Homo sapiens: one gene and its partners. The protein of the gene in region 1 purifies or fractionates together with the protein of each later gene. This does not show direct contact. Each region holds a gene or a part of one and is shown in the gene's direction. Other genes may lie near its edges.

Evidence for each region.
Region 2: the proteins of PLSCR4 (region 1) and FBLN1 purify together in Homo sapiens (affinity purification with mass spectrometry; 3 studies listed by BioGRID and IntAct, with this or other methods). This does not show direct contact.
Region 3: the proteins of PLSCR4 (region 1) and RUVBL1 purify together in Homo sapiens (co-immunoprecipitation; one large-scale study listed by IntAct). This does not show direct contact.
Region 4: the proteins of PLSCR4 (region 1) and TBC1D15 purify together in Homo sapiens (affinity purification with mass spectrometry; one large-scale study listed by BioGRID and IntAct). This does not show direct contact.
Region 5: the proteins of PLSCR4 (region 1) and TLE1 purify together in Homo sapiens (affinity purification with mass spectrometry, with the first as the bait; one large-scale study listed by BioGRID). This does not show direct contact.
Region 6: the proteins of PLSCR4 (region 1) and PDCD6 purify together in Homo sapiens (pull-down; one study listed by IntAct). This does not show direct contact.
Region 7: the proteins of PLSCR4 (region 1) and LCN1 purify together in Homo sapiens (affinity purification with mass spectrometry; one large-scale study listed by BioGRID and IntAct). This does not show direct contact.

Annotation. Positions count from the first base shown.
Region 1 is NC_000003.12:146,241,106-146,244,605, reverse strand, and holds part of PLSCR4 (phospholipid scramblase 4), read left to right. Parts: intron 1-3,500. UniProt on the Homo sapiens protein: Catalyzes metal ion-induced ATP-independent rapid bidirectional and non-specific movement of phospholipids (lipid scrambling or lipid flip-flop) between the inner and outer leaflet of the plasma membrane and participates in the redistribution of phospholipids between membrane leaflets.
Region 2 is NC_000022.11:45,526,883-45,530,382, forward strand, and holds part of FBLN1 (fibulin-1 isoform D precursor), read left to right. Parts: intron 1-964; coding exon 965-1,127; intron 1,128-3,500. UniProt on the Homo sapiens protein: Incorporated into fibronectin-containing matrix fibers. May play a role in cell adhesion and migration along protein fibers within the extracellular matrix (ECM).
Region 3 is NC_000003.12:128,083,062-128,085,812, reverse strand, and holds part of RUVBL1 (ruvB-like 1), read left to right. Parts: intron 1-2,751. UniProt on the Homo sapiens protein: Possesses single-stranded DNA-stimulated ATPase and ATP-dependent DNA helicase (3' to 5') activity; hexamerization is thought to be critical for ATP hydrolysis and adjacent subunits in the ring-like structure contribute to the ATPase activity.
Region 4 is NC_000012.12:71,919,759-71,922,285, forward strand, and holds part of TBC1D15 (TBC1 domain family member 15), read left to right. Parts: intron 1-954; exon of another isoform or gene 955-972; coding exon 973-1,089; intron 1,090-1,609; coding exon 1,610-1,696; intron 1,697-2,527. UniProt on the Homo sapiens protein: Acts as a GTPase activating protein for RAB7A. Does not act on RAB4, RAB5 or RAB6.
Region 5 is NC_000009.12:81,583,183-81,585,865, reverse strand, and holds the end of TLE1 (transducin-like enhancer protein 1), read left to right. Parts: intron 1-210; coding exon 211-361; intron 362-1,341; coding exon 1,342-1,418; intron 1,419-1,560; coding exon 1,561-1,668; 3' UTR 1,669-2,183; downstream 2,184-2,683. UniProt on the Homo sapiens protein: Transcriptional corepressor that binds to a number of transcription factors. Inhibits NF-kappa-B-regulated gene expression. Inhibits the transcriptional activation mediated by FOXA2, and by CTNNB1 and TCF family members in Wnt signaling.
Region 6 is NC_000005.10:302,646-306,145, forward strand, and holds part of PDCD6 (programmed cell death protein 6), read left to right. Parts: intron 1-1,531; coding exon 1,532-1,576; intron 1,577-3,500. UniProt on the Homo sapiens protein: Calcium sensor that plays a key role in processes such as endoplasmic reticulum (ER)-Golgi vesicular transport, endosomal biogenesis or membrane repair.
Region 7 is NC_000009.12:135,520,139-135,524,239, forward strand, and holds the start of LCN1 (lipocalin-1 isoform 1 precursor), read left to right. Parts: upstream 1-1,301; 5' UTR 1,302-1,359; coding exon 1,360-1,449; intron 1,450-1,908; coding exon 1,909-2,039; intron 2,040-3,093; coding exon 3,094-3,164; intron 3,165-3,741; coding exon 3,742-3,852; exon of another isoform or gene 3,853-4,101. UniProt on the Homo sapiens protein: Could play a role in taste reception. Could be necessary for the concentration and delivery of sapid molecules in the gustatory system.

The DNA of each region.
Region 1 (3,500 bases):
CATGGTTCATGGGGTCCCAAAACAATTATAATAGTAACATCAAAGATCACTGATCATAGATCACCATAACAGATTGTTATGAAAAAGTCTGAAATATTGTGAGAATTACCAAAATTTGACAAAGAGACAAACTGAGAAGTTGCTGTTCTGCAAAATGGCACTGATAGACTCCTTGATACAAGGATGCCACAAACCCTCAATTTGTTTAAAAAAATGGAGTATCTGTGAATCACAGTATAGCAAAGCACAGTAAAACAAGGCATGCATGTACATAATGAGGTATCTTGAGAATGGGACCCAAGTAAACATGAAATTCATGTTCCATTATGTTTTAAACATATAGCCTGAAGATAATTTTATACAATATTTTTGATAATGTTGTGTATGAAACGTTTACGTACGTTGAACCATCAGAAAGCAAAGGTATCAGTATCTCAATCACCCATGTGGACAATCTGTGGTTATTTGACGTCACCATCATTCCTGACTCTAAATTCATTATGCTACTGATAAGTAATCATTTTCTTACATTACTCACAAATAAGTGCTTAACAGTAAAAAATAGGATGTATCATTAGTACAGTGAAAAGAGAATGCGTTCAGGGTAACTAAGCAGCACAGTAGTATCTCCAGAATGCCTGTGTCGGAAAGCCACCAATAAGCAATGGCAGGCTTTCATTCTTTACCTACAATGCTGTATTTTGATTACAAGGTTATCATTCACTGAATTTTATTATTTTAAGTGAGAAGAAATATCAGAAGTAGCCAAGTGACCAGCAAGTGTTTTCTCTACAAATGAGGAAGCATTCTGATGGATGACTTTTCAGAATGTTTCCTCTGGAGTCCGCTGTCTCATTAACAATGGTTTTTGTCTTAGAAGTCTCTGTTGATTTTACAGACTGACACAATTTCTTATTCTGTGATGAATGAATGCTCTTAGAGTCCTTCAGTAAACCCATCACATATTTTCACCATGTCATCTATAGGCACTTTGCAGTTTTAACAGTGTCCTCATCATCTTTCACTTGTGACATCATGTTGGTGCTGAAAGTTTTGGATTTTTGAGCATTTCAGATTTTGGACTTTTGGATTAGGGTTGCTTAGTCTATACAGCATTTTATGTGCCCGAACTCTGCATGAATATTATAATCTTTTCTTAAAGTTAGAGATTGGTTCATCCTTTTTGTTCATTTCTTTGTTTTCAAGAATAAATGACAACACAGTTTTTGTTTTGCTTTCTATTTTTTTGTTTTTCAAGAGTTTTGGAGCATAGTCAGGATCATGATGATAAGAAAGAGATGTATATATGTAACAAACCTGCATGTTGTGCACATGTACCCTAAAACTTAAAGTATAATAAAAAAAAAGATGTATACAGTTGGTAGAGCATATTGTTAGCAGGAGTTTGAGAAGAGGGGTTTCAGTCAATTGAGAGATCCCCATGGAAGAAGCAGGATGAAATACAGATAACAGAACTAATTCTTACAAATTTTTTTTCTGAAAATGGTCCAAGTGTCAATTAGGAACTTTCCAGGTTTGATTTGAAACCCCCACCACAGAATTTGTTTTTCCTCCCTGAGAGATTGATGGGTTACTGTTTTGGGATTAAAGCCTTTGGGGGCTTTCTCTGGTGGAGAAATAGTTCAGACAAAAGGTAGTGGATCCATTAGATGGCTAATATAAAAGTGGACAATGTATTTTCCAGTTGCATGAGTGTTTACCATAAAGGCAGACATCTTGGGGCATAGGGTTCTTTATTTTGGGATCCTCTTGGGCCCTGTAGCCTTTACAACTGTAAAGACATAAACCTGTTTGCCTTTCGTAAGGAATTTTCCCACTGTAGCCATTCTAAGTTACTTTTGCTAAGGTTCTCCCATTCGTCTCGAAAAGCACAGGTTCTGGGTCTCTGGTTTTTATACATGAAGTTGGCTAGAATTCCAGAGGGCGAAGCTCTAGCAACCTTTGACCAGATAAACCCATGATTCTATGTCTTTTATTAACCTTTCCTACCTACTAACTGAGTTGAGTTTATGTCTGACCCAGTCAAATACCTGAGGCCTCCCTACTGGGCCCAGTCCTGTTGTTGGCATGACTTTGAAACCCAGTGTAGATCAAAAATGCTCAAACTCAGCTCAAATCAGAAGTTCATGAAGCTTAGATTCAAAAATCTCACCCATGACCCCAGTTGCTGCGAAAGAGCAGTGAGTACACTGGGCATGCTGGGTACCTTAACTTGGTCACTCAGTGCTCCTGGGATCACTGGAAGTTTGCTTCAAGATCTGACTTCTCATGTGAAACTCTTAAAAGAAAAACTTTAGGCAAATTCAGCAGAGTTTATCTGAGCGAAAAACGATTCATGAATCAGGCAGCCCTCAGAACCAGAAGAGTTTCAGAGAGCTCCACCGAGCAACATGGGCAGGCAGTATTCATAAACAGAGGAAAGAAGTGACGTACATAAATCAGTTGATTGGATCCAGCCTGGTATTTGCTTTATTTGGTCATGGTGTGATGAGGCATTTGCCTTCAACGGACATGGTCTGATCAGTTGACAGCCCGTGATTGGCTGAAGCTCCACTACCATCATTGGCTGAGACTCAGCTACTTGTTACAAGAATACAACCTCAAATCAAGTTGCAGTCTGCTATTTACAGAGGCAGCTTTAGGCCCAATTTAATTTATCAGGTTATGATTTAGATTACGTAGAAATGTGTTGTTTTATTTTTATGTGGTTAGAGAATTTCCTGTTATCTTGCGGTTAGTAATTCCTAGCTCATTACATTATGGTCGGAGAACAAGCTGTATTATTTTAATTTTTTTGTAATATTTTAAGATTTGTTTTATGAGCCAGAATGTGGTCTGTCTGGGTGAATGTTCCGTACGTTGAAAATAATGGTTATTCTAATGCTGTTGGGTGGGTGTCCTACAAATGTCAGTGTTGGTTGATGATGCTGTCTAGTTGTGCCAATATCATTGCTGATTTTTCCTCTGCTTGTTCTTGTAGATTACTAAGAATGGAGTGTAAAAGTCCTCAACTGTAACTGTGGATTTCTCTTTATTTTTTTCAATTTTGCCAGTTTTTCCTTCATGTATTTTGAAGCTCCATTGTTAGGATCAGTCATGCTTAGGATTGCTGTATCTTGTTAAGAAATTGTCTCTTACTTTTAAGTGATAGCCCTTCTTATCTCTGGTAATTTTCTTTGCTCTGAAATCTACTTGTGAGATATTAGTATAACCACTCCAGCTTTCTTTTTCTCTGTAATGACTTTGTTGAGACATAATTCACATACCATAAAATTCACCCATTCAAAGTGTACAGTTGAGTGATTTTTAGTATATTCAGAGTTGTGAAGCTATCACCACAATCTAATGTTAGAATAATTTCATAATTCCAAAAAGAAACCCATGCCCAATAACAGTCATTTCCCATCTTCTTGAAGCCACAAATCTACTTTATGCCTTTATAAACTTGCCTATTCTGGATAGTTCACATCAGTAGAATC
Region 2 (3,500 bases), on another chromosome or scaffold:
GGCACACAGCTGTGCCCATGTCCCCAGACTTGAGAGGTGTGGAAAAAGCACAGAACATTCTAGCAGGAGTGGGAACAGATCTCTCTGGCAGATGAGCGACTTGTGTTTCCAGGAAGGATTACTCACACCCCAAAAGATGGATGAGGTGACTGATGCTCCCTACACTTTCTGGCAGCGGAGGGCGTAGAATAAGCAGCCTGGAAGACCCATCAGTGCCACATAACTGAGGCAAAGCTACACCTCCTGGCTCCTGCTGGGGACTGTTTAGAAAGTTCTGTGCTCCTCTTAGGATAACCACTTAATAAAGACTGAAGCAGGGCTTTTCGTGTGTCAGGGCAAATGTTGCTTCTGGGACTCAGGTGTGAGGCCACAGGGACTTGGAAGTAACTATTGGGACCTGGGCCCAGGTGGCAGACAGCCACCCTGTCCTTTGACCTTGCTTGATGACTCGTCTTGAAGTTCCTGTGCTTTCAAATGCACGGTGCAATTCCTGCTGCCAGAACCCCTCTAACTCAAAAACGGAGAGGCAGCATGCATGTGTGTCATTTTTCCGGGCATGGTAGAGAAATCTCAGACCATGCAAAAGGAACAGAACTTTGGAGCTGGTGCATGGTGCTATAAGAAGCTCCCTCTTCCTGGATGTGTGCGAGCAGAGCCGGGTGGTCTCTGGGCGGGGCAGGGATGTTGAGGGGTGCAATTGCATGTTGGGGTGGGGAGGGGAGGTGGATGCCAGGCCCTTTAAGCTTCCTTTCAAAACTGGGACCTAGATGATTTGGAGTAGGGGGATGGCCTTGCTTTGCTATTTGTTGCTGACATTTAGAAGTGGTATCTAAGCCAGACTTGAGTCATCACTCTACAGGTTGTGTGGACAGGGGGCTCAGAGAGGCCTCCCCTGAGGCCTCTCGTGGACCCCGCTGGGCTGTCTGCCCGCTCCTCCATCTGGGATCTCCACCTGTGTTTGCAGAGGTGCTGCCATTGCTGTCTGCTGGGGAGGGCGGCCCAGGCCCAGGGCCAGAGCTGCGAGTACAGCCTCATGGTTGGCTACCAGTGTGGACAGGTCTTCCAGGCATGCTGTGTCAAGAGCCAGGAGACCGGAGATTTGGATGTCGGGGGCCTCCAAGAAACGGGTAACTTTCCCCCTTCCTTCCCTAATGAGCAGTGTATTAAGGTTCTCCGGGATGTGTATATAGAGCGAGAGTGGAGAGAGAGAGATTTTAAGGACTTGGCTCATGTGATCGTGGGGCTGGCAAGTCCAAAATCTGCAGGGCAGGCCTTCAGGCTGGAGCCCCAGGGAAGGAGGGGCATTGCAGCTGGAGTTCAAAGGCAGTGTGCTGGCAGAACGCCGCCTTTCCCGGGGAGGCCAGTCTTTTTTCTCTGAAGGCCTTCTGCTGATTGAGTGAGGCCCACCCATGGTATGAAGATGATCTGCTTTTCTCAGCATCAACAGACTTACATGTTAATCTCTTTTTTTTTTTGAGACAGAATCTCTCTCTGTCACCCAGGCTGGAGTGCAGTGCAGTGGTGTGATCTTGGCTCACGGCAACCTCCGCCTCCCGGGTTCAAGTGATTCTTGTGCCTCAGCCTCCCGAGTAGCTGGGATTACAGGTGTACACTACCACACCTGGCTAATTTTTGTATTTTTAGTAGGGATGGGGTTTCACCATGTTGGCCAGGCTGATCTGGAACTCCTGACCTCAGGTAATCCACCTGCCTCAGCTTCCCAAAGTGCTAGGATTACAGGTGTGAGCCATCGTGCCTGGCCAATATTAATCTCTAAAATATAGCTTCACAGCAACATCCAGGCTAGTGTTTGACTAAATATTTGAGTACCATACCCCAGCCCAATTGACACTTACGATGAACCATTACAGGTAACACGTGCATCCGTGTCACCATTGCCTTAACTCAGCACGGACTAACTCCGGTTGTCGGAGCCATTCATGTTTGTGACCTTATCTGAAAGCCGCTGTCCTGGAGTGACGCTGAGTGCTTGGAGTCTGGGATCGGACAAATCTGTGCTCCCATCCGGGTCCTAATGTGTACCTTGGTCCCCTCATCTGGGAAGTGGGGATAGTTGCAGTCCTACTTCATCAGGTGCTGGGAGGATGGAGTGCGAGATTGGGTGTCAAGGGTTGGGTAGAGCACCTGGCCCCATAAATGTCTGCCCTCACCATCTGCCCTTGTCCCTTCAGCTGCCCGGGGCAGCATGGGTGGCTGGCCTTGCTCCCACTTCTTGGGTGAGGGTCTGATGCTGAAGATCGCACAGCCGACACGTGGAGGAGGGAGAGCCTGGCCTTCCACCTCCTGGCCAGTGCCCTCTCCATCTGGAGCTGACGATGTATGGGCGAGCAGCTGGGGGCCATCGCTGGCTAATAGCTGGCTATGCTCTGTCAAATCATAGACACTTACTCAGCAAAGGGGCATGTGACCCCAAGAGCAGCTTCAAGAGCGCTCTCAGCTGTGTGCCCCCCCGTTCTGTGTCCTCGCCCTGCATTTCTGTGTGGTTCAGTTACAGGGTTCAGGAGACTTTGTGGCTGTCCAGTAGCCTCTTACACTTAGGCCACGGTTTCTTGTGCTGTAACAGAATTAACCTGGAAGAAGGCAGGACTCCGCCTGGGCCAAGCTTGCTGTGTAGTTTTCGGCCTGTTCCCTCCTCTCTCTGAGCTTTGCCCCCACTCTCTTAAAAAATAAAAGAGGTGTGAGCTGGGCACGGTGGCTCACGCCTGTAATCCCAGCACTTTGGGAGGCCGAGGCAGGCGGATCACCTGAGGTCAGGAGTTCGAGACTAGCCTGGCCAACATGGGGAAACCCTGTCTCTACTAAAAATACAAAAATTAGCTGGGCGTGGTGGCGGGCGCCTGTAATCCCAGCTACTTGGGAGGCTGAGGCAGGGAGAATCGCTTGAACCTGGGAGGCGGAGGTTGCAGTGAGCCGAGATGGCGCCATTGCATTCCAGCCTGGGTGACAGAACGAGACTCAGTCTCAAAAAAAATAATAAAATAAATAAAGAGGTGGGGAGGTGCCGGAAGGGGCGAAAGGGAAGAACCCTCAGACCTGTAGTCTCTAAGTCAAGGTAATGGCTGTAGGGTCCTGGGTGACACGGAACCTTTCACTTCTTGTTCTTAGGTTTTCAAGTCCAGGCTGTAGGGCCCCTGGTCACAGAGGACCCGGGTCACCCGGGACTCATCTTTCACTTATTGTTCTTAGTTTTTCAAGTCCAGGGCCCCATGGATGCCACTGAGATGATTTCAGATGTTACAGTCATCAAGAGGGATTGGGGCCGCATTCTGCCTCATTCCTTGGCTTTTGAAATCAGAGACGACATTTTCACTTTAAACAAACCCAAACCATTCCTGCTGGTGGAGGATTTCTCCTGCATCTCGGGGGTGGATTTTCACTGATTTATGTCTGCAGCGTGAGCAGTCTCTGGGCTTTTCTGCAGCTCCAGATGTTAGATGTTTTATCTCTCCGTCTTTTATCTGCTTCAGTCCTTGCCCCAG
Region 3 (2,751 bases), about 18 Mb from region 1:
GGCAGTTTGTGAGCAGGACCTTTCCTTTGGAGCAGTCAGGGCCTCTCCTGGGCCTTTCCTGGCACTTCTGCTGCTCTCCTGTGGCTGGAGGCCCAGCCTGGGCCTGCCAGCATCTCTTACCGCATGCAGGAGTGCTGTGGGGATGCATCAGGAGAGTCACAGATCTCCCTTTGTAACCAGCATTGGCAAATTACTGAAGCAGTTATGGTTCATAGTAGCAATTGTATATGTTACCTAGGAGATGGTGTCAATGGCCGGGGGCCTCATCGCCACGTAAGGGTGTCTTGCCAGGTGACTTGCAAGGGTGACTGCCAGGTTGAAGCCAAGGCATTCACTGAACGGAGGCAGAAGCAGAAACAGTCCCAGGCAATTCTTGGAAAACTGGCCCATTCTTACTGCGGGACATAGCACCTTACTGTTGGGTCCAAAACCCCATGTGTCCTGCCAAAAAAGGCAGCCCAGCACAGATGTGTTCAGGGCCAGAGACACCATTTGCCTACTGAATGACTTGAGCAATTTGGTGCATCTCACCGAGCCTTCACCTTCTCTGTTAAATGGAACATCTCCTCCCTCCTTTGCAAGATTGTCATTAGGATTTGTGAGGTATTGGCAATAACGGGCCCTCCCATCCTTCCCATTGCTGTTGTTATTACTGTATTCATAGCTTTGTGTGCTTCATAGGTACCCTCTAGGGTCCTCTACGTACAACATACAACAGCTTCGCAATAGCCAGTGTTGGAGGCTCCAAGAACGAGGGTCCTGTGGCTATGTGGAGAGTAAGCAGCAGAGCCAGGACTGCCACTCAGAGCTAGTTCACCCTTGCTGCCGCCATTCGAACCCAGAGCTCCTGGCCCAAACAGTCTGGAATGTTCTGTACTGTGCTTCTAGGACAGTGACTTGCCAGGCCAACTCTGGGCTGGGGCTGTCTTGGCTCTGTCAGGAGGGCCTCTCCTCAGGCTTTCTCTCAGGACTCGTGGCTTTGTTCCCGCTGGCCCAGGCGATAACCTCAGCATTTTTACTGGAGCCTGGGGCTAGGTTTTTAAACAAACTCAATGTAACTTGTGTACTCTGCAATCCAAGCCGACACCCTCATAAACTATCCCTGCAGGTTATTAAATGATTAAAGATCTCATTTATGAACTGTCCATTTTCGAGCAGCCTGAGACAGACGCTTTCACGATTGCTCTGACCTGCTGCTCTCTCTAGTGAGAGAGAGAGAGCAGAGTGTCCCTGACATTCTGGAAGCTGAGCCACAGATTCAGTGCATCTCACTGAAGGCGAGGCACTTAGCTTAAGCTGTCTCCTATGACCAGGCTCCAGGATTCAATATTTACATCTCCCTGGAGTTTCAGAAGGTCATCTGGGGACATTTTTCTTGGCAAGACCTGGTGGTTTCCTCAGTCCCAGCTGTGAGTGAGAAGCCGTTTTTACCTTGAAGCTGTGTTCAGGGGGGAGTTCTGTTGTGAGTCCCTCCCAGCTCCTTTTCTTGGTTGTCCTTGTACCATCCAGTAACTTCAGAGGGCCCCTTTTTGCCCAGCTGCATTTAGCTTTGGATTTCAGACAGTGAAGCCCCTCCTGCATAAGCTAAGATTGTTTCAGTGGAGCTCACACCCTGGCAGTTCACCCATGAGCCCAGCAGATACGTTTCATGTGGCCTATGCAGTGTTTGTGAAATGTTTGAACAAGTTGCTGACATCTAGACATCAGGACATTTCTTTCTTTCTTTCTTTTTTTGAGATGGAGTTTCTCTCTTGTTGCCCAGGCTGGAGTGCAACGGCCCAATCTCAGCTCACTGCAACCTCCGCCTCCCGGGTTCAAGCAATTCTCCTGCCTCAGCCTCCTGAGTAGCTGGGATTACAGGCATGTGCCACCACACCCACCTAATTTTTGTCTTTTTAGTAGAGATGGGGTTTCGCCATGTTGGTCAGGCTGGTCTTAAACTCCAGACCTCAGGTGATCCACCTGCCTCCGCCTCCCAAAGTGCTGGGATTACAGGCGTGAGCCATTGTGTCCTGCCAAAATCAGGACGTTTCGTACAAGGATCTGAGTTCTGAGCCTGTCTTGAGAAAAGGGAAGACTGCAGACAACACCTTGCAGCAGTGGTGGCCGCGGGTGGAGGGGCTGCCTCCCCAGGGTGTTTGCTGGCCAAGCATTTCACCCTCACCTGGCTCATCGCAGCCGCTCTGTCCTGCTGGGGCTTTCCAAGGCCTTTCCCATCTGTGGGCAGCCAATGTGCTGTCCCCCAAGCCCAACCGCGATCATCAGAGACTGGGCTCCCCCTGCAGCTCCTGCCCGCAGGGTCCCAGCCTGGAGAGCTGACAGGCGAGGCTTGATGTGGCCACCTCAGTAAACCTCTGGCTCTCCTCCCTCCTGGAAGGCTGAAGCTGGGACTCAGTCTTTCCCAGCTCCTGTGCCTCTACACTGGGTGTGCTTTTATGGCTTTAATTTCAACAAGGGCTTCTTGATATCTTGTTTACGAAGCTGCCAAAGTGAAAAATTCCTGTATTATATGCGGCTCGAAGTCCTGCAGTTATCTCAGCTCCACAACACACAACATCATTATCCTGGCTGCCCCTTATCACTCAGTGCTGGTACGCCTGCAGGATCCTGGTCCACCGTGTTACAGCATCCCCGCCGCCAGCCTGCCTCCCCTCCAACTCTACCAAGATCTTCAAACTGCAACAAGCGTCAGCCTCTTCTTGATAGATTAGATATCTCCCGGTGATGTTATGAGGCCTGGTAAATCTTTAA
Region 4 (2,527 bases), on another chromosome or scaffold:
TGTTTATATCCTACTGCTCAAGGTCATCACCAAGGTCTGATTGAAAAATTCAAAAAATTGCATCCTCAGGCATAAATGGGTTTTAAAGGATGAATTAAGAATATTATTACCACATAGCTAGAATAACTCCTCAATCTGTGTTTACTAAATAAATTCAAACTTTTAATGAAACCTTTGAGGTTAATTGCATTGTAATTAAACTTTCAACAATTGGGTTTAGTTTGAAAATTATTCAACTTGATTTACTCCTTTTGAAAGAAGTAAACACATTTCGGGTATGATCTCATGGTATGGTTTGTGTGGGTGTTTTTATCTTTGTGGAAAATATATTATTAGGTACATGAAGCAGGGGGAAATTAAGACCCTAAATTCGAGGATATTATCTGTATTTAGGAACAGCTGAGCTGTTGATCAAGCGTTTTCTATGTTTGGTTATAAATTTGGGGCAGTTAATTCAGTTATTGTCACAATCAGGGATAAAATGTGATACAAGGGTTTTACGTATTTAGAATGTAGAGCTACCTCTGGGTGTTTCTGATTCCATGTACTGTGTAACTGAACCTTTTTTTATTTCCAGGACTTAGCTTTAGTCTTTTCTCAGATCGAAGTGAGAAACTGATACTTCAGAAAAATATTGAAAATACATCTAACCCTTACACCTTAACCTTGTGTCTGTAGCTCCTGCATTAATAACATTTATCATACTGGTTAGGCTCAGTAATTTACTTACTATAGTTACCTTAAAGAGCCACATTTAGAATATATCATATTCATATAAACTCGATGATAGTTACTTTGTAGCTGAAGGTAAGACTCTCCTTCCCCTCATTTCCTAGCTAGAAAAACCTTGGGCTACCCTAAACAGGCAACATCTACTTTGCATAGAAGTCATTCAGTGTTCAGAATTGTATCTGTGAGGAAAATGTTTTAGAATTGATACAATTTGCAAAATAGTTCTTCTGCCTTCTATAGGTAATGTGGACCGAACTACCATGTACAAATTTCCATCTTCTTCTCTGTTGTGCTATTCTGGAATCAGAAAAGCAGCAAATAATGGAAAAGCATTATGGCTTCAATGAAATACTTAAGGTAGTTATTCCTTTAATTCAGATTTTAGTGTTCTGGCTTTTCTATTTGGTGGTCCTGATATACAGAACGTTTCCTTGGAACATTATTAAATCTCTTGAGTAACTTAAATTGTGTCAATAACAGTGCTAGGAATGACTATCTGAGAATGACAGTTCAAATACATATTGGCCAGTTATTTTTACCTGGCTAATTAGGAAGAAAAGGAAATTCAACAAGTGCTCTTTTATGTAGTTTAGTTTTTCAAAAATTAATTGTCTTTTGATTATAACTTTGAGATATCAGACTTGGAATAGCTGCTGGATTTAATGTTCCATAAGCTTATTAGCTAGTCTTTAGCTTTAAAACTTGAAATAATCTAAAGAAAGATATATTGAATTTCTTACGTATTTGTAGTATATGAATGTTTTTATTTTAAGGATTTTATCTGCAGTGAAATATAACTGGTAATAAATTGTTTATATAATAGAATATAATAGTGTATTCAGTTTCGATATCATTTTATTTTGTTGATACTTTTTAGCATATCAATGAATTGTCCATGAAAATTGATGTGGAAGATATACTCTGCAAGGCAGAAGCAATTTCTCTACAGATGGTAAAATGCAAGGTATACAGTGTTTCAAGTAATTGCAAGATTTGTTTGTTTTTGGTGGGTTGAGATCAAGAAAGATTTTTCTTCTTGGAAATAAAATAGCAACTTTAGTAAGCTGAGGGCAGGCACAAAGTATTGGCTGGCTTTTTGTTTGCTGTTCTAGATTTACAGCACTTAATTGAAAACAGTTGACTATGGCAGATAGGAAACAGCTAATAATAAGGCAAAATGGTAAAAGTAATGAAAATATTTCTATAACAAAGAGGCTGTAGAATTTCAGCAATGATATATTACCCAGTTGAGCTCATGAATGCAGAATAGGCTGTCATATTAAATATGCAGAATCTCTAAACAAAAATGAATGCTAATCAGAAATAATTAAATCAATATTATTTAGCCTGTGTCACTCACTTATATTAGTCAAGTTATTAATTATTTTAAAACAAGGCAAATTTGATGTATTATCTGAATTTGAACCAAAGCAGTATACTTTTGATGTGTTTTAGCTTTTTCTTTCTATTAAGAGAAAGGGCCTTGCTAAGTTGCCCAAGCTGGCCTTGAACTCCTGGGCTCAAGTGATCCTCCTGCCTTAGTTTCCTGAGTAGCTGGGATTACCAGTGCATGCACACCACTGTGCCCACCTCATGACTTTGCTTTTTTTTTGAGACAGAGTCTTGTTCTGTTGTCCAGGCTGGAATGCAGTGGCGTGACCTCGGCTCACTGCAACCTTCTCCTCCTGAGTTCAGTCGATTCTCCTGCCTCAGCTTCCCGAGTAGCTAGGATTACAGGTGCCTGCTACCATGCCTGGCTAATTTTTGTATTTTTAGTAGAGACGAGGTTTCACCA
Region 5 (2,683 bases), on another chromosome or scaffold:
AGACAGAGGGGTTCAAATGTTTCCAGTTTCCTAAAGGTTTTGACACTTGGTTCATCTGCGTTAGATCACTTGCCCTGTGGACCTCCCCACAGTCTGGACTTGGCTGATTACTTCCCCCCATTCTTGCTATTTCCCCACTTTTCACATTGCGTCTTCCCTTCCTAAGTGTATCAGGCGGAATAATGAGTGAGCCTGTCTTGCTCCTTGTAGATCTTCTCCCTGGGGTACTGCCCCACCGGGGAGTGGCTGGCAGTGGGCATGGAGAGCAGCAATGTGGAGGTGCTGCACGTGAACAAGCCTGACAAGTACCAGCTGCACCTGCATGAGAGCTGCGTGCTGTCCCTGAAATTTGCTTACTGTGGTGAGTTCAGCCGAAAGGAAACTGGAGGCCGTTGATGGCCCAAATGGAAAATGCTTCTTAAAAAAATATGGTAGAGATCATAATCTGGAAAAAATGTTCTCCGAGCAGCTGGATGCAATAATTCTATTGTTTTAATATGCCCTTCAGAGCACAGCAATGTCTGTTTCAGTCTGTTTTGCTAATTTGAGAAAAGTCAGCAGGCAATGTGATTGCCTAATACACGGTTTGGACACAAGTTTGTTTTGGAGGGGTTGGGAGACGACAATGAGTTTCTACTCTGAAGAGGGGTGGGCGGGAATTTATTGAAGAATGGAGCAGGGGCAGTGGAAGTCATTATGAGCTGGCCATGATGAGGAATCCAGGGTTAGAGAAGTCGATATTTAGGTATACGCAGACACTTAGTTACACTCTACTCTACAGTGAGGATGAAGAGGGAAGAAGTTCATGTGGTGACCCTTCTTGTGTGCTGCAGATGGGCAGATATCTGTTCACAGTATGCATAGATGGATGGATGGATGGATGGATGGATGGATGGATGGGTGGATGAGTGCCTATCACTTATTGAGCATTTTTCTTCATGCTATATGATGTGACTGGCATTTTACTTAAGTTGGATGTTTAATCCTTTAATTCCCATTAAAGATGGGAATCTTTAATCCCATTTTATCATGAGGAGACTGACTAAAATAGAACACATTCTTCATTGATTTCTATATTTGAGGGTTACCGTGTGTTGGATATGATGCTACTAGTCCTGTATCCAGTGACTAAGGAGGCTGATACCTCTTAGATTATACCCAAGATCACTGATAAATCACTGAGGAGCCCAGATTAAAACCTCTGTTCATATCATGGACCAGTCCTTAGGGCATGATAGTTCATATATTAAAAATGTTCTTAGTTTGATTAAGTCCAAGTTGCTAATTGTATAGTAGGAATTTTAACCTTGTGAAAACTAGATATTCCTTTGCTAATTCTAGGTAAATGGTTTGTGAGTACTGGAAAAGATAACCTCCTCAATGCTTGGCGGACCCCCTATGGAGCCAGCATATTCCAGGTGAGTAAGTACTCCTCACCTAGATCCACAGTTTGACCACAGTGTCGCCTCTGAAGCCAGGAGTGAAGGTGCCTCCGAGGGAGCAGGGCCTCTGAGTACCGTTGTTCCACATTAAACACATGTCCATTGTTTTCTCTTCCAGTCCAAAGAGTCCTCGTCAGTGCTTAGCTGTGACATCTCTGTGGATGATAAGTACATAGTCACTGGCTCGGGGGACAAGAAGGCTACAGTCTATGAAGTCATCTACTGAAAACATTATGTGGTTTAACGTTTATAGTTGAATTGGGCCAAAATGTTTCGAATTTATAGAAATAGAAAAGTTGTAACTTTAAAAGAGAAAAAAAATTACAAACACCTGTTTCCAAACCTTGACAGAAAACTACTTTGAGTCTACAAAGAGGAGGCGACAAGTCCATCAGCAGAAAGTCACCTGTCTACATAGACCAAATGGAGCACCAAGGCCAAGCGGACAGAGGGGCCATGGGTTGTAGGATTGAGGAACGGAATCTGCCGACTCACATGACAGCCCATTCTTTCTTTCTGGGTGATCTGGGGATCACGCCTTGCCCAAGTGTGAGATTACCTTTCTGTTCCTTGCAGTTCACCTCACTTTCCGTCCTTTGTAGAGCAGTGGTGTCTCCAATGAACTTGTTTCCTGGTTTTGCATCTTGTGAAATGTTTTTTTGTATTTTTGTTGAAGGTTAAACATTTGTATAAATTGTAAATATATTTGGTTTATTACAGTAAAGGCTTTAGTACCAATAAGTGGTTTTCCTTTTCTTTCTTTATTGTTTTTTATTAAAGCTTTGGGATCATCAATGTGGGTTTTATAAGCAAAGATTATACATTTGTAGAGGAAGTTTTGAATTGCACTGCTTATTTTATAAATATATTTGGTGGTAGGCTCCCATTGCATTAGAACCTAATCCTTCACAAGCTTGAGTTACTGGGAGCTCAAGACTAGGAATTGTGAGTAATTGAAGGTTTACTAATGACAGTTTTCTTTAGGAAAGTAAAATTACTTCATCAAGATTTGTTCTTTTGTTATGATACTATTGTGATTCAAGGTCAAAGATTAAAGCTCTACTTTTTTCTGGTGATTCATTGGAAGGCAAAATATTCCTTTTTCTAGGAAGGCCCAATCTCCTCTTCCTTTTCCCTTTCTCTTTCCCTTTCTCTCTTTCTTTCGTTCTCTCTCTCTCTCTCCTTTTTTTTTTTTTTTTTTTTTGTTTAAAGATTTGAGTTCACATTGTTTGTTACCCAGG
Region 6 (3,500 bases), on another chromosome or scaffold:
GAGCACAGCTTCCCCGCATAACTGCTGGAGGGTGGGTCATCGAGTGCTGCTGTGTGTGTGGGCCACGGGTTCAGGTGCACCTGCCTTTGTGGGGAGAGCACAGCTTCCCTGCATAACTGCTGGAGGGTGGGTCATCGAGTGCTGTGTGTGTGGGCCACAGGTTCAGGTGCACCTGCCTTTGTGGGGAGAGCACAGCTTCCCTGCATAACTGCTGGAGGGCGGATCATTGAGTGCTGCTCTGTGTGTATGCCTCAGGTTCAGGTGCACCTGCCTTTGTGGGAAGAGCACAGCTTCCCTGCATAACTGCTGGAGGGCGGGATCTTCCCAAGGGGAAGTTGGGAGGTGCTCAGGCGGAGCAAATGGATTTAACTTCTGGGCTGGGAGAATGTGGTACCCCCGTGGAAGTCTCCCTGAGGAAGGAAAGGAAGGAGCTGGAGGGAGGGTGTGTGTGTCTTAGGAGGGGACGCACTTCAGGTGAGAGCGGGCATGGCACTAGGAGGAGCCCCATGAGCCCAGAGTGGTGGCACGTAGAGGCCTAAGGGACCATGCCAGCAGACCCCACCGCCCGTGCTCCACCAGGAGCCTGACATTGTTCTCTGAGATCAGGGGGCTGTCTCTGTGTACTGCCCAGGACTGTGGCATTTTTGTGCATAAAAAAAAAAAAAAACTGTGTGTCTAACACAGACGGGGTATGAGGAGAGCCACTGGTCTCTCCTGACCTTAAAAATATTTTTTTAGTTCATTTTTAGTGAGTATGGAAATTACTGAAGGTACAAATCACTCTGAAGATAGGTTCTTGTGTGCGAAGGTCATCAGTGAATCTTCATTCTCAGAGTTGATAAATGGTTGTGAGCGCTCAAGGGTATCAGATTCAACGATGAGTCTGAGGATAGTACAGCTTTCCTATTCAGTTTCAAGGAAAATCATATAAAGCCCAGACCGTAATTTGTCAGGAATGTTTGAAGTGTGGTGTGATGGATGTCTTCACCGTGCTTTAGGATGATTACTGAGGGAGAACGGAAGGAAGGGGTCTGGTACTTGCACCTTTCAGTAGAATTAGTGTGAATGCCACAGCGACCAAGCTATGTTCAGGTGTCTGCAGGCAGTGGTGGCCTTGATGATGGATTTTCTGAAATGGGAATTCGTGAAGTCCTCTAACAAAACTAAGTGCGAACTTCTCAACTTAGCTGGTGACTGCATCCTTGAAAAATTCTGTGTGTAAAATGATACAGAACCATTTCTTGGTTATCTGTTAAATAAGAGTGCATGTCCAGCCGCGATGACTGTGGACGGCCTTGGAGGTCTGGGAGGCCACGAAGGACTCCCACACACAGCAGGGTGTGAACCCACCAGGCAGTGCTTTGGCCCCCTCCCAGGAGTCATGGCAGCCGACACGTCACCTGGAGTGTCTAGAAAACCACTACCTTAGAGCCCCCACTGCTTTTCCTGGTGCCTCCAGGTATAGATCACAAACTCAGTGTCCCAGAAAGATTTTCCTTTTACTTTAACTCCTGTTGTTGTTTGTTTTCAGGCACGTGGACTCCCTTTAATCCAGTGACTGTCAGGTCGATCATATGTAAGTATCGGCAGACGGACCAACCTGGGCTGCTTTGTATCCGACCCGCTTGGGTACCCGCTTGTGTTTCCTTTGTCTGTGGGTCCGTATCACTTTGCTCCCTTCTGGAATTCCACTTAGATGAGCGTCGGCCCTTTCATCCCTCTCCCTCCGTCTCTGTACCTTTTCACATCTCTCCGTGTATGTTTGCTCTATTCTTGATTCTGTTTATTTTTAATGTACGGTGTAACCTGTCCTTTCAGTTTCTAATTCTAAAGATGACATATATTTAAAATTTCTAAATTATTAGTTACTTTCACATCTTATCTGGGTGTTTTTGATAGACATTGCTTATTTATTTTTGTGATTCCATTCTTTATTCAAATATTTCATATGATAGTCTTCAGTTTTAAGAACATGCTTTTTTGAAAAGCGCTAGATATTTGTGACATGGAGCTCCTTGACTGTGTTTGAAGTCCTTGGGAGGGTGGTCTACAGCCAGATATTTTTCCTGCTCAAGCCCACACAGAGTGACCAACTTCCTTGATGCTTCTGTAATTTTTGTTTGTTTTGTGGGTTCATGTGTAGCCTTAATGTGAGGGTCTGCATCATTTCTTTGGGTCCAGGGTCTCCCCAGCTGTATAGGCAGCTGGGTTTTTGTTTGTTTCTTTTAAGAGACAGGGTGTCCCTGTGCTGCCCAGGCCTGGTCTGGAATTCCTGGGCTCACGCAATCCTCCTGCCTCAGCCTCCCAAAAAGTGGGGATTACAGGTGTGCACCCCCATGCCCAGACGGTAGCCGGGGTGTGAGCTGAGGCTCCAGGCGCAGGCAGGTGTTCAGGAGAGTCGTGCTGTGTCTCCATCCCCCGTAGCCAGGTGGGAGCTGCAGCTCCAGGGGCAGGCAGGCCTGGGAGGCAGGTGTTCAGGAGAGTCATGTTTCCATCCCTACCCGACTTGATTTCTGGAAGGTTCCCTTTGCTGGGAGGTGCAGCCCCCTTCAGACCTCTTTAATATGGAATCCCAGGTTCAGTTCTGCCTCACAGGGACCATGGCATTGTGTCTCGAGGTTTCCCAGAGCGGCCTGGGGCTCATTCCCTCGCCTCCCATCCATGCACGTGTTTTAGTCTTGTGAGGATTCCCTGAGTTCCTTGCGGAGCCTGTGTGTGGTGAGGTGTCTGAGTCCTAGTGTGGGTGTAGCTGGGGGCTTTTCCAGATGACTGTGCCCTGCTGGTCGTGCATATGTTGCTACGTCACACTGATGGAGGGAGAGAAAACTTGGAAGTGTAGTAGTGGCAGGGCTCAGCCTTTAGTGCTAGAAAAGGTGTTGATACATGGGGAGCTACCTCCCCACCGGAGAGGAATGGCCTGGGAGCCACTCCTCTGCGGAGCCCTTACCCTGGGGTGCAGCTCACCCAGCATCCTTCCCTGCTGGTGTGTGGTGCGCAGTGGGTCCTGCACGCAACAGCATCGTCCACACACACTGCACACATCGTGGAATGGTCGTATGAAAAACAGCCCCTGGTCCACACACCACACACGTCGTGGAACGGTGCACGTCGTGGAACGGTTGTGTGAAAAACAGCCACTGGTTGCACACAGGGTTGTGGACTGTTGGGAAGAAACATCGATGCTGTTTCTCACATGATTTTTCATCCTGTGGATTTTCATTTAATTGTAACATATTTCTGATCAAACCAGGAGTAGTCTTATTGCAGTCCTGTATTAACCTCTGTTCTTGAAAAGAGACCACGTGATTTATCATTTTCTCTGCAGCAGTAATTCACACTGAATTTTTCTATGTTTTTTAGCCATATTGCAACTACATATAAAGGTAGTTATAGATTCTTTTGTATTTGGACCTGGAGTTAGACTGAAAGCAAATAGGACATAGGCGAGGGTCTGTTTCTAATTAAAGCAGGTTTTCCTGACAGGGCTGTTCCAAGACTCC
Region 7 (4,101 bases), on another chromosome or scaffold:
TAATTATTTCTATTTCGTCTCTCCTTATTTCTTATATTCTGGCCAGTTCTAATTTTATACTTTATATATTTTTAAATCACTAGGCATCTTGATCATACTCCTGCAGTTTTAAAGTGTGTGTCAGACTTTCCTTGGCTGGTGTAAGTTCCTGTACCAATTGCTCATTTTTAGCCTGCCTTTCTTAGTGTGGTGTTTCCTTGGGTAATTTGGAACCTGGCCTTTCTAGCTTATTTCAAGGTGAGGATATTGTGTCTCTGCATTTCTGCCTTTCTCTGCCATCTTGTTGTCACTGTCCTCTGTCTAGCAGTGTTTTGTAGCCTCTGCTCCCATCCCGGGTCCCAGGCTTCTGCTCTGCAGTGATGCAGAGCATGTCACAGATAAAGTCATCCTTTCCAAGGACGGCTTGTCTCAGCTTCTGCCCTTGAGGCTGTGTTGATGTCCTCTTGCCTTCCTATGCCCACAGTGCTCCACTAAGTTATACGAAGTTACAGCCCTGGGATGTGTCAAGGAGGGTTTCTCAGCCTTCTTTCTGGAGTCAGGGAAGCCCCTCCCATCACTCCCAGGAGCCGGACCTAGGCCCTCTCTGCCTGCCTTGGGACTTGGAGCTGACAGGCCCCTGCCTCTGCCCCATCACCAGCCTGTGCTTCTCCTCCATTCCTTGTTTTATGTGAGTGTGTGTGCGTTTGTGCATGTATATATGTACACACATGCATACACACACACACACCTGTCTTGGTCTTCTGTCTGTCTGACCTATTGCTGCTCTGTGTGTGGAGCAGAGAGGGTCGTTACTGCACACCTTGCTCAGGACAGTGGACACCGTCTTTAAATGCACACGGGATCGTGTTCACACAGGAGGGTCCCTTTTTTTCCATGATGAATCTGAGGCCAAGTAACCTGCCCAGAGATGCAGGAAGCTCAGCTGAGCCCCAAGCCCACGGCCCTCGGACTCCAACCCCAAACCCCCTTGACAGTGTGCACGTCAGCAAGTGTGGGATGGCTGGGGGGCATCTGTTACGGCTGCACACGTCCCCAGGAGGCCTGCACACCCTTCACTCCCTTCAGTTTCCCTTCAGGTGAAATCTGCAAATCTGCTCCTCTGGACCTGGTCCTGTCCAAGTGATCCTCTGGGATTAACAAGCTGTTATTCACCAGCCTCCAACAATAATGGCAGGTTATCTGCTCCATTGCAGAACTGGCAGTGGTTTACATCCAGGAAGGGATTGGTCAGTCTCCTGTGCCAGGTCCCTGGGGGACCCTGAGCCCAGCGGTATAAAGGGCGGCTGTGGGAGGACTGGTACAGCCTCTCCCAGCCCCAGCAAGCGACCTGTCAGGCGGCCGTGGACTCAGACTCCGGAGATGAAGCCCCTGCTCCTGGCCGTCAGCCTTGGCCTCATTGCTGCCCTGCAGGCCCACCACCTCCTGGCCTCAGACGAGGAGATTCAGGATGTGAGGCCCGGATGGGAAGGCTGGGCTGGAGGGGGCAAGGGGCGAGGCTGAGACTGGATGGAGACCCCATGCCTCCTCCATCCAAGGAGACCCTCGTTTTTGGGTTGGGCATTCAAGCCCTGCCCTGAGGGAATGGTGGGATGGGGCAGCAGGGGTCTGGGCTGGCAGGGTAGGTGGCGCAGGGGTGCAGAGTGGGCAGGGCTGGGAGGGTGGGGGTCTGGCTGACTTCACTTCTTCCCTGGGGATGAGGGCTCCTGTGGTCCTGGCTGGCTTGTGGGGGCTGGAGCCACCTTCAAGTGGGCCTGGCGAGGGTGCTGGGTGTTTTCTGGGTGGGTTAGATTGGGGAACGTTCCCCGTTTCCAGCCCTCGGGGTGCGGTAGAGTCTAGGGGCTGCAGGCCAGGGAAGGGGGAGGCTCTGGAGCAGTCGGCCTGAGCCTGATAGAGAGGGGCCTTCTCCAGGTGTCAGGGACGTGGTATCTGAAGGCCATGACGGTGGACAGGGAGTTCCCTGAGATGAATCTGGAATCGGTGACACCCATGACCCTCACGACCCTGGAAGGGGGCAACCTGGAAGCCAAGGTCACCATGCTGTGAGTGTCTGCCAGCCGGCCGGGCAGCCTGCAACCTGGTCTAGGGCCTTCCCTTTCCCCACCCAGGAGAGCTCTGGTGCTGGGGAGGTGGGCAGACCTGCTGGGAGGCCTCTCTCGGCCCCTCCTGCAATGCTTGAGGGCAAACTGTGCCACTGAGGTGCCTCGGCTGGAGGGGCCCTGAGGGGGCAGAGGCCCCGGATCAGACCCTGTGGGCTACCAGTGGCAGCCCTGGGTACCGCCCACTTCCTCCTCCGACTAGGGAATGTCTGGTGACGTGCAGGCCCCTTTGGGAAAAGGTGTTTACCCCCGACCAGAGTCAGAGCCAGTCCTGGCAGTAAATTTCTGCTTTGGAGAAGTGCAGGGATGGGGCTTGCAGAATGACCAAGAGGGGGCATAGGAGAAGACACCATGGAGAAGACCCCCTTGAAATCCCTGTGTAGCGCTCACCTGTGCGGCTCTCACCTGGGCTGCTTCCACCCGCGTGGCTCACATCTGTGACTTCCCACCTGTGTGATTTCACCCGCATGGCTCCCTCCTGAGTGGCATGCAGTGCCTGTGCTCCGGTCCTGGGGGCTGAATCTCAGGAAGTCACTGACCCTGGCAATGACCCCGATTTTTTTTTCCCCCAAAGCCCCTCACTGAACCTTTCCCTCTCTGGGCCAGATGATGATGGATATGGGGCTTGTGCCTGAATGTCTCTAAAAGGAAGAATGCAGCTGGCGGGATGAGGCTCAGGCCCACGCCACAGACGCTGCCTGCAAACCAGGCAGCCTGGGTGCCTCTGGCAGGAAATGTGTTGGGGGCGGGGGGTTTGGGAAGGCAGCCACCAGGAGGAGCGGTGCAGAGCTCCTGGCCATCTCGGGAGACCCCGGGAACTGCCGCATGGGACCCGGAGGGGCCGCTGGTGCCTGGGTCTGAGATGCAGAGAAGCACCCTCCTCCATGGGCCTGTGGCAGACTCGGGGCCACATTTGCAGGGCATTGCAGCATGGTTGCTCCAGGGCCGGGGGAGGCACAGGCCAGGGCCGCTTTGCCAGGGGGCTTCTGTTTTCCAGGATAAGTGGCCGGTGCCAGGAGGTGAAGGCCGTCCTGGAGAAAACTGACGAGCCGGGAAAATACACGGCCGGTGAGTCCCGGGGCCTGAGCCAGAGCCTGAGCTTGAACACACGCTGGATGTGCGGGGGCAGCCAGTGCCTTTTTGGGGTGGCCTTTTGGCCTGGGAAGCCTTTTGCTGCCTTCTGACTCCACTAAAAGCCCACTCTCTTCTCCCACTGGTCAATTTGCATTAGAGACTTGAACACCTGACCCCAAACACCAGGTGTGGCAGGTTTGTCCCGGGGCGGACCCTCTGGGCTTGCCCTGTAGCCCTGGCTGTGGCTCTGGCAGGGCCAGGAGCAGAGTCGTATTTGGCTGCGGGGGGCTGTACCCCAACTCCCACCTCCGCAGACCTCATACCCGGAGGAACCCCCCGTGACTCACTGGTTTGGGATGTGGCCGCCTCTTGGGTACATCAGGTTCCTGGGAAGTGGGGGTCCCATGGCCTGGGGCTCAGGCCTGGTGGGGAACCTGGGTCAGGGAGCTCTGGGAGGCTGGGAGGGTGCAGGAGCTGCGGGGCTTGCTGGGCCTGGCAACGCACGCTGTCCCGGGATCCTCTCTGAAGTCCCTGGTGGCTAATTCAGGAATGTGCTGCTGTCTTTCTGCAGACGGGGGCAAGCACGTGGCATACATCATCAGGTCGCACGTGAAGGACCACTACATCTTTTACTGTGAGGGCGAGCTGCACGGGAAGCCGGTCCGAGGGGTGAAGCTCGTGGGTGGGTCCCGCACCCTCACCCTGCAACCCATGCCTCCACCTGCCCTCCCTCCTCCCTCGGCCTCCTGCACCCTCTTCCCCATGGGAGAAGCCACTGGGACCCAGGAACCCACTGCAGTTTTCTTAGGATGAGTTTTCCTGATAAAGGCCTCAATTCCCACCCCTGGAGTTCAGGATTTGGGATGCCCCGGCCTCGGTATCTGCAGCAGAGGCAGGAAGGAGCCACGGCTGCAGGCACAGGGGTTCAAAG